2 linked regions of the Homo sapiens genome follow. The protein of the gene in region 1 purifies or fractionates together with the protein of each later gene. This does not show direct contact. Each region holds a gene or a part of one and is shown on either strand. Other genes may lie near its edges.

What was found.
Region 2: the proteins of KCNC3 (region 1) and RHBDD3 purify together in Homo sapiens (affinity purification with mass spectrometry; one large-scale study listed by BioGRID and IntAct). This does not show direct contact.

Annotation. Positions count from the first base shown.
Region 1 is NC_000019.10:50,315,878-50,319,377, forward strand, and holds part of KCNC3 (voltage-gated potassium channel KCNC3), read right to left. Parts: intron 215-3,500; 3' UTR 1-214. UniProt on the Homo sapiens protein: Voltage-gated potassium channel that plays an important role in the rapid repolarization of fast-firing brain neurons.
Region 2 is NC_000022.11:29,259,372-29,262,176, reverse strand, and holds the end of RHBDD3 (rhomboid domain-containing protein 3), read left to right. Parts: intron 1-751; exon of another isoform or gene 752-977; intron 978-1,312; coding exon 1,313-1,475; intron 1,476-1,563; coding exon 1,564-1,851; intron 1,852-1,939; coding exon 1,940-2,117; 3' UTR 2,118-2,305; downstream 2,306-2,805.

The sequences.
Region 1 (3,500 bases):
CTGCACCCCCGCAGGGAGCTCTGTGGCTTTTCCAGGCAACGCTAAGGGAGCTGTCTGGACAAAAGGTGTCTTGATCGTAGGAGGGAGGGCTTGGGGGGAGATTTGAAGCCCAGTGTCTTGGGGACACCCCCTCCCAGCCATTCCCAATTGCTAACCTGGGGGGAAGGGGCGGGGGGGACCGAAAGTCTCGCGAGGTCTCAGGCGGTGACAAGAGCTGGGGACAGAAATACACAGAGTCACGGGGGTGGGGAGAGGATGGTCAGGGGAAACCCCCCAACACAGCCTCACTGTTGGGGGGATGGAGAAACGCCGCCGGGATCATTTCCTCCTCTCTGGTGTTTTCCGCGGGAGGGGAGCAGTGAAATGGGGGGCGGCTGAGACATCAAATATGGAAGGAGCTTCCGGGCTGGCTGGGGAGGGGGAGGGGAGGAGGAAGGATGGGAGGAGGGAGAGTTCTGGGGAGGAGTGGGAGCCAGTGATCAGGTGAGGGCAGATGTAGGAGGGAGGAGCAGGGGTGGAGGACAAGCCTGGAGGAAAGGAGGGTCTTGGGAGGACCATAGGGGACAATTAGGGAGGGAAGAAGCCTGGCGCAGTGGCTCAGACCTGTAATCCCAACACTTTGGGAGGCCAAGGCAAGCAGATCACTTGAGTCCAGGAGTTCGAGACCAGCCTGGCCAACAAAACCCCATCTCTACTAAAAATCCAAAAATTAGCCGGGTGTGGTGGCAGGCACCTGTAATTCCAGCTACTCTGGAGGCTGACGCAGGAGAGTCACTTGAACCTGGGAGGCAGAGGCTGCAGTGAACCAAGATTGCGCCACTGCACTCCAGCCTGGGCGACAGAGCGAGACCCCATTTCAAAAACAAAAACGAAAGGGTTGGGAAGGGAAGGTTGTGGTAGGAGAGACTCTTGGGGGAAGGAGCATGGGGGGCAATAGGCCAAAGGGGTCTTGTGGGAGGGAGGGTTGTGGGGCTGAAGGACAGCAAGGAAAAGGCTTGGGGAGGGCTGGAGGGGGAAGGATCCAGGGCACCAGGGATAGAAGCTTCAGCCAACCCCATCAGCTCCAGCCATGATTTGAGTTCAATGAATGGATTTTGGCATCATAGGCAAGAGAAGCAGGGACCTCCCCCACCCAGCCACCCCCACCCCAATCCTCCCTCACCCATAGGCCCACACCCTCTCCCCCTCAATCCCATAGGGGCCCCTCTAGACCTGGGGGTGGGGAACAGAGGAAGGTAAAGGACTGGGAGTGGGTGCAAGCAGGGGGAGGAGTTAGATAGGAGCAGGGAGGGGAGTGGGGGGGTAATGAGCTGGAAATGGACAATGACGGGGAGGTTACAAAAAGGAGAGGTGGGGGGGATGGAACAAGAGGAGCCAGACAGTCCCCCCTCTGGACTAGGAGCCCGGAAGCCTGGGGTCTCGGCCCTTGTGCTCTGTGGCCTGGGGTGGTGGGTTGGTCATGGCCTTCCCTGAATGTCTGTGAAACACAGGGGTTTAGGTGAGGCCATTCCTGGAAGCCCCCCAGGTTCCCCTATGGCATCTCCTTAGGCTGTGGACAGGGATCCTTTAGGATGTGTCTCTGCATTTCTAAAGAAGATTCCACAGACGGCTGTTGAATGAATGCATGATGGATCACATACCTTCAGGTGGCTTCCCTTCACGTTTAAGATAAAGTCCCGCCTCCTCACCATGGCCGAAAATCCGTCCTGATCTTTCTCCCTGGACTCCAGCAGCCCTCTCCCCTTGGCCACTGGGATCAGCCTCACTGTGCTCCTTGCTGTCCCTTGAACAAGCCAAGCTCATCCTCCACCCCCTCCCCCAGGGAAGCTCAGGGCCTGTGCACTTGCTGTTTCTTCTGCCTGCCTGGCCCTTTTCACCCTCCAGGTTCTGTGTCACCTCCTCAAAAAGTCCTTTGCAGAACTCCTTTTCTTCCCCCAGAGATGGGGTCTTACTCTGTCCCCCCAGGCTGGAGCACCATGGCACAATCATGGCTCACTGCAGCCTCCCAGACTCCTGGGCTCAGACAGTCCTCCCACCTCAGCCTCCCAAGTAGCTGGGTCTACAGGCATGCACCACCACACCTAAGTTTTTTGGTTTTGAGGAAATGGTCTTGCTCTGTTGCCCAGGCTGGTCTCAAATTTCTAGGCTCAAATGATACTCCCACCTTGGCCTCCCAAAGTGCTGGGGTTATAGGCGGCAGCCACTGTGCCCAGCCAGACCTCTTTAACTGAAGTGGCCAGAGTAATAGTCTTGTTCTTTTATCTTTATCTTAATTGCTTCTTTTCTTCTTCTTCTTCTTCTTCTTTTTTTTGAGAGGGAGTCTCACTCTATTTGTAGCCCAGGCTGGAGTGCAGTGGTGTGATCTTGGCTCACTGCAACCTCCACCTCCCGGGTTCAAGTGATTCTCCTACCCCAGCCTCCCAAGTAGCTGGGACTACAGGTGCCCACCACCACGCATGGCTAATTTTTGTATTTTTAGTAGAGATGGGGTTTCACCATGTTGGCCAGGCTGGTCTCGAACTCCTGACCTCAAGTGATCCACTGTCCTCGGCCTCCCAAAGTGCTGGGATTACAGATGTGAGCCACCCCCGCCGCCCAGCCTTAATTGCTTATTTTCTGCTTCTTCCTATGAGCGGCTGGAAACTTTTCCTGTAAAAGGCCAGATAGTAAATCTCTTTGGCTATAGGGGCTGTATAGTCTTTGTCCCAATTATTCCACTCTGCTGTCGTGGCTTAACATGGTTGTGTTCCAATAAAGCTTTGTTTACAAAAACAGATGCTGAAAGATCAGGCCCTCAGGCTGGAGTTAGTTTGCGGACCCCTTACAATCTGGAGACTGTAAACCGTGATGGCAGATTCACGCTTTGTTTTATCCCAAATTTGTAGTGCCTGCAACTGTGTTCTCAAGAATCAGTTGTGGCCATGGGTGGTGGCTCATGCCTGTAATCTTAGCACTTCGGGAGGCCAAGGCAGGAGGACTGCTTGAGCCCAGGAGTTCAAGACCAACCTGGCCAACATAGCGAGACCCCAACACTTGAATCCAGGAGGCGGAGGTTGCAGTGAGCCGAGATTGCACCATTGCACTCCAGCCCAGGTGACATAGCAAGACAGTCTCAAAAAAAAAAAAAAAAAAAAAAAGAATCAGTTGCTGAAACAGTGAATGAATGGATTGAATACATGAATGAAAGGAGCTAGGAGTTGGCTTGGATTGTTACAAGGATTAAAGAATATATGTTAAATTCCTAGCATGTGGTAGGTACTTGGTGATATTTGCTGAATGATTCGTCTACTAAATAGCACCACTGTCTTATCCCCCTCACTTCTGCATGGCCGGCAGCCCCCAGTCTGTCCCTTCTGATCCCTGACCCCGACTCTCTCGGCCTCGTCCCTTCCTCTCCATCCTCACAGCCCTGGCCCCAGCTCACGCTTCCACCTGTCACCTCAGCCTCCTAACTTCCAGCCTCCCACCTCCAGTCCATCCTCACAAGACCCCAGAGCTGC
Region 2 (2,805 bases), on another chromosome or scaffold:
AGAGCAAGACTCTCTCCAAAAAAAAAAAAAAAAAAAAGCCGTACAAAATTATAATAATCAAGATATTGTGGTACTGGCATCAGGATAGACATACAGATCAATGGACTAGAATTGACCATCTAGAAATAAACTGTTAGATTTACTGTATAGTCAATTTATTTTGACAAGAGTGCCAAGTCGATTCAATGAGGAAAAGAATATTCTTTTTAATAAATGGTGCTAGAGGCTGGGTGCAGTGGCTCACGCCTGTAATCCTAGCACTTTGGGAGGCTGAGGTGGGCCGATTTCTTGAGGCCAGGAGTTTGAGACCAGCCTAGCCAACATGGTGAAACCCTGTACTAAGAATACAAAATAATTAGCCAGGTGTGATGGCACGTGCCTGTAATCCCATCTATTCGGGAAGCTGAGGCAGGAGAATTGCTTGAACCTCGGAGTTGGAGGTTGCAGTGAGCCGAGATTTCACCACTGCATATCAGCCTGGGTGACAGAGTGAGACTCTGTCTCAAAAATAAATAAATAAATAAGTCGTGCTAGAGCACTCTTTATTGGTGTTCTGCTTCTGAGATTTTTTTTTTAATTTTTAGAGACAGGGTCTCATTCTGTCACCCAAGCTGGAGTGTGGCGACGCCATCATAGCTCACTACAGCCTCAAACTCCTGGGCTCAAGCGATCCTCTTGCCTCAGCCACTTGAGTAGCTGAGATTACAGGTGTGCACTGCCACGTCCAGCTAATTTTAAAAATTTTTTGTAGAGACGGGGTCTATGTTGCCCAGGCTGGTCTTGAACTCCTGGCCTCAAGTGATCCTCCCGTCTCAGCCTCCCCAAGTGCTGGGATTATACAGCTGTGAGCCACTGCGTCCAGCCCTAAGATGATTCATACCTATCGGGGAAAACAGTGCCACTGGAGAGAACAGGCTGGCCTCTGCACTCTGGATTGGTGACAGGAGTTATCCAGGCCTGTCTGAAGGCAATAGCAGGTGTGTCCATGGGACTTCTTCCAGGACGGGTGGGTCTTGAGTTACAGACCTGAAAAGGTGCATAGGGTTCTGGGAACAGAGTGGGTCACGGGTGAGCCCAGGCCTTGGGGTGAGGCATACCTGGCTCTGTTTGGCTGAGTAGCTTCAGGCAGATCCCTTTTCCTTTCTGAGCCTCTGCTGCTGACCAGGGTGACGCTATTCCATGCTGGTCCACAGTGAGGAGACGGGAGGGAATGGTGGCCAGCACACTTGGCATGGGGCCTGGCCTGTGGCGTGGGCCCACCCCTGGCTGCTTTTGGTTTTCCTTGACCGGCCGCCCTGCCCCGGGCAGACAGATGCAGCTGGGGCCTTCCGGTGGCTGGAACCCTCAGAGCGACGGCTGCAGGTGCTGCAGGAGGGCGTCTTGTGCAGGACCTTGGCGGGGTGCTGGCCCCTGAGGCTCCTTGCCACCCCGGGTAGCCTGGCGGAGCTGCCTGTCACCCATCCTGCCGGAGTGAGGTGAGGGTGATGGGGGGGATGCCAGTCCAGGTGGTGGGCACTGTGGCAGGGCTGCCAGTCAGGCCCTCTTCTCTTCCCACTCCTCCAGGCCTCCCATCCCTGGACCGCCTTATGTGGCCTCCCCTGACCTCTGGTCCCACTGGGAAGACTCAGCCCTGCCCCCACCAAGCCTGAGGCCTGTGCAGCCCACCTGGGAGGGCTCCTCAGAGGCAGGCCTGGACTGGGCTGGGGCCAGCTTCTCCCCAGGGACTCCGATGTGGGCGGCCTTGGATGAGCAGATGCTGCAGGAGGGCATCCAGGCCTCGCTTCTTGACGGGCCAGCCCAGGAACCCCAGAGCGCACCATGGCTGTCCAAGTCCTCTGTCTCCTCTCTGCGGTAAGGTGGGGTGGGCAGAGGTGGGGTCCCCTGGTATAGGGGCCGGGGTGGCCCTGACACTCCCCACTTCTCCCCCCACCCCCAACAGGCTGCAGCAGCTGGAGCGCATGGGCTTCCCTACGGAGCAGGCGGTGGTGGCACTGGCAGCCACAGGCCGTGTGGAGGGTGCCGTGTCACTGTTGGTTGGAGGACAAGTGGGCACTGAGACCCTGGTGACCCATGGAAAGGGTGGGCCTGCCCACTCCGAGGGTCCTGGGCCTCCCTAGCCCAGGCAGAGAGTGGGGCACAGGCAGGCCCTTGGGTGCTAAGGGCTGGGCTGCATGTGGGTAGCCCGAGCTCCTACTCTGTCTAAAGAGGGCCACAGTGGGGAGCAGGGGCACCTCTGGAGGCAGGAGAGGCCCCCCAGCATGCTGCCCTAGTACGTGTTTAGAATAAAAACCAGTTTGTTTTTCAACCTGGACCTCCTTGGAGGCAGCAGTTGTGTTTGACTCTTCTGTGTTGGCATCAGGGGGATGAATGAATGAGTGAGCACCAAATGAATGACCAGTTGTGGGAGAGCTGTTCCCTGATGTCCAGAGACACAGGCTTCCTGGCCCTGCACCTTGCAGCCTATACCTCCAGGAGGCTCTGTCCTCCAGCACAGAGCATTCTCCACCGCCCATTTCTAGCCCTCTCCGTCGTAGCCTCATTCCCAGCTGCCCCCATCTAAGCACACACTGAGACCAAGCTGCGGGGAATCAGGTAGGGGCCTTTATTGGCCAGCACACATCTACCTCCTGGCATCTGTCACAAGCATTTGCAGGAGTAGGCGGCCCCTTCCTCTCCATGTCCCCATCCCCAACCTGAGATGCGGGAGGGCCTGGGGGCTCAGAGGGAAGAACTGAGGCAAGAAGCCCCCGGTGATCCAGTCAGAGGATTGGGCAGCCTGACCTCGGGGTGGGGAGCCCAGCACTG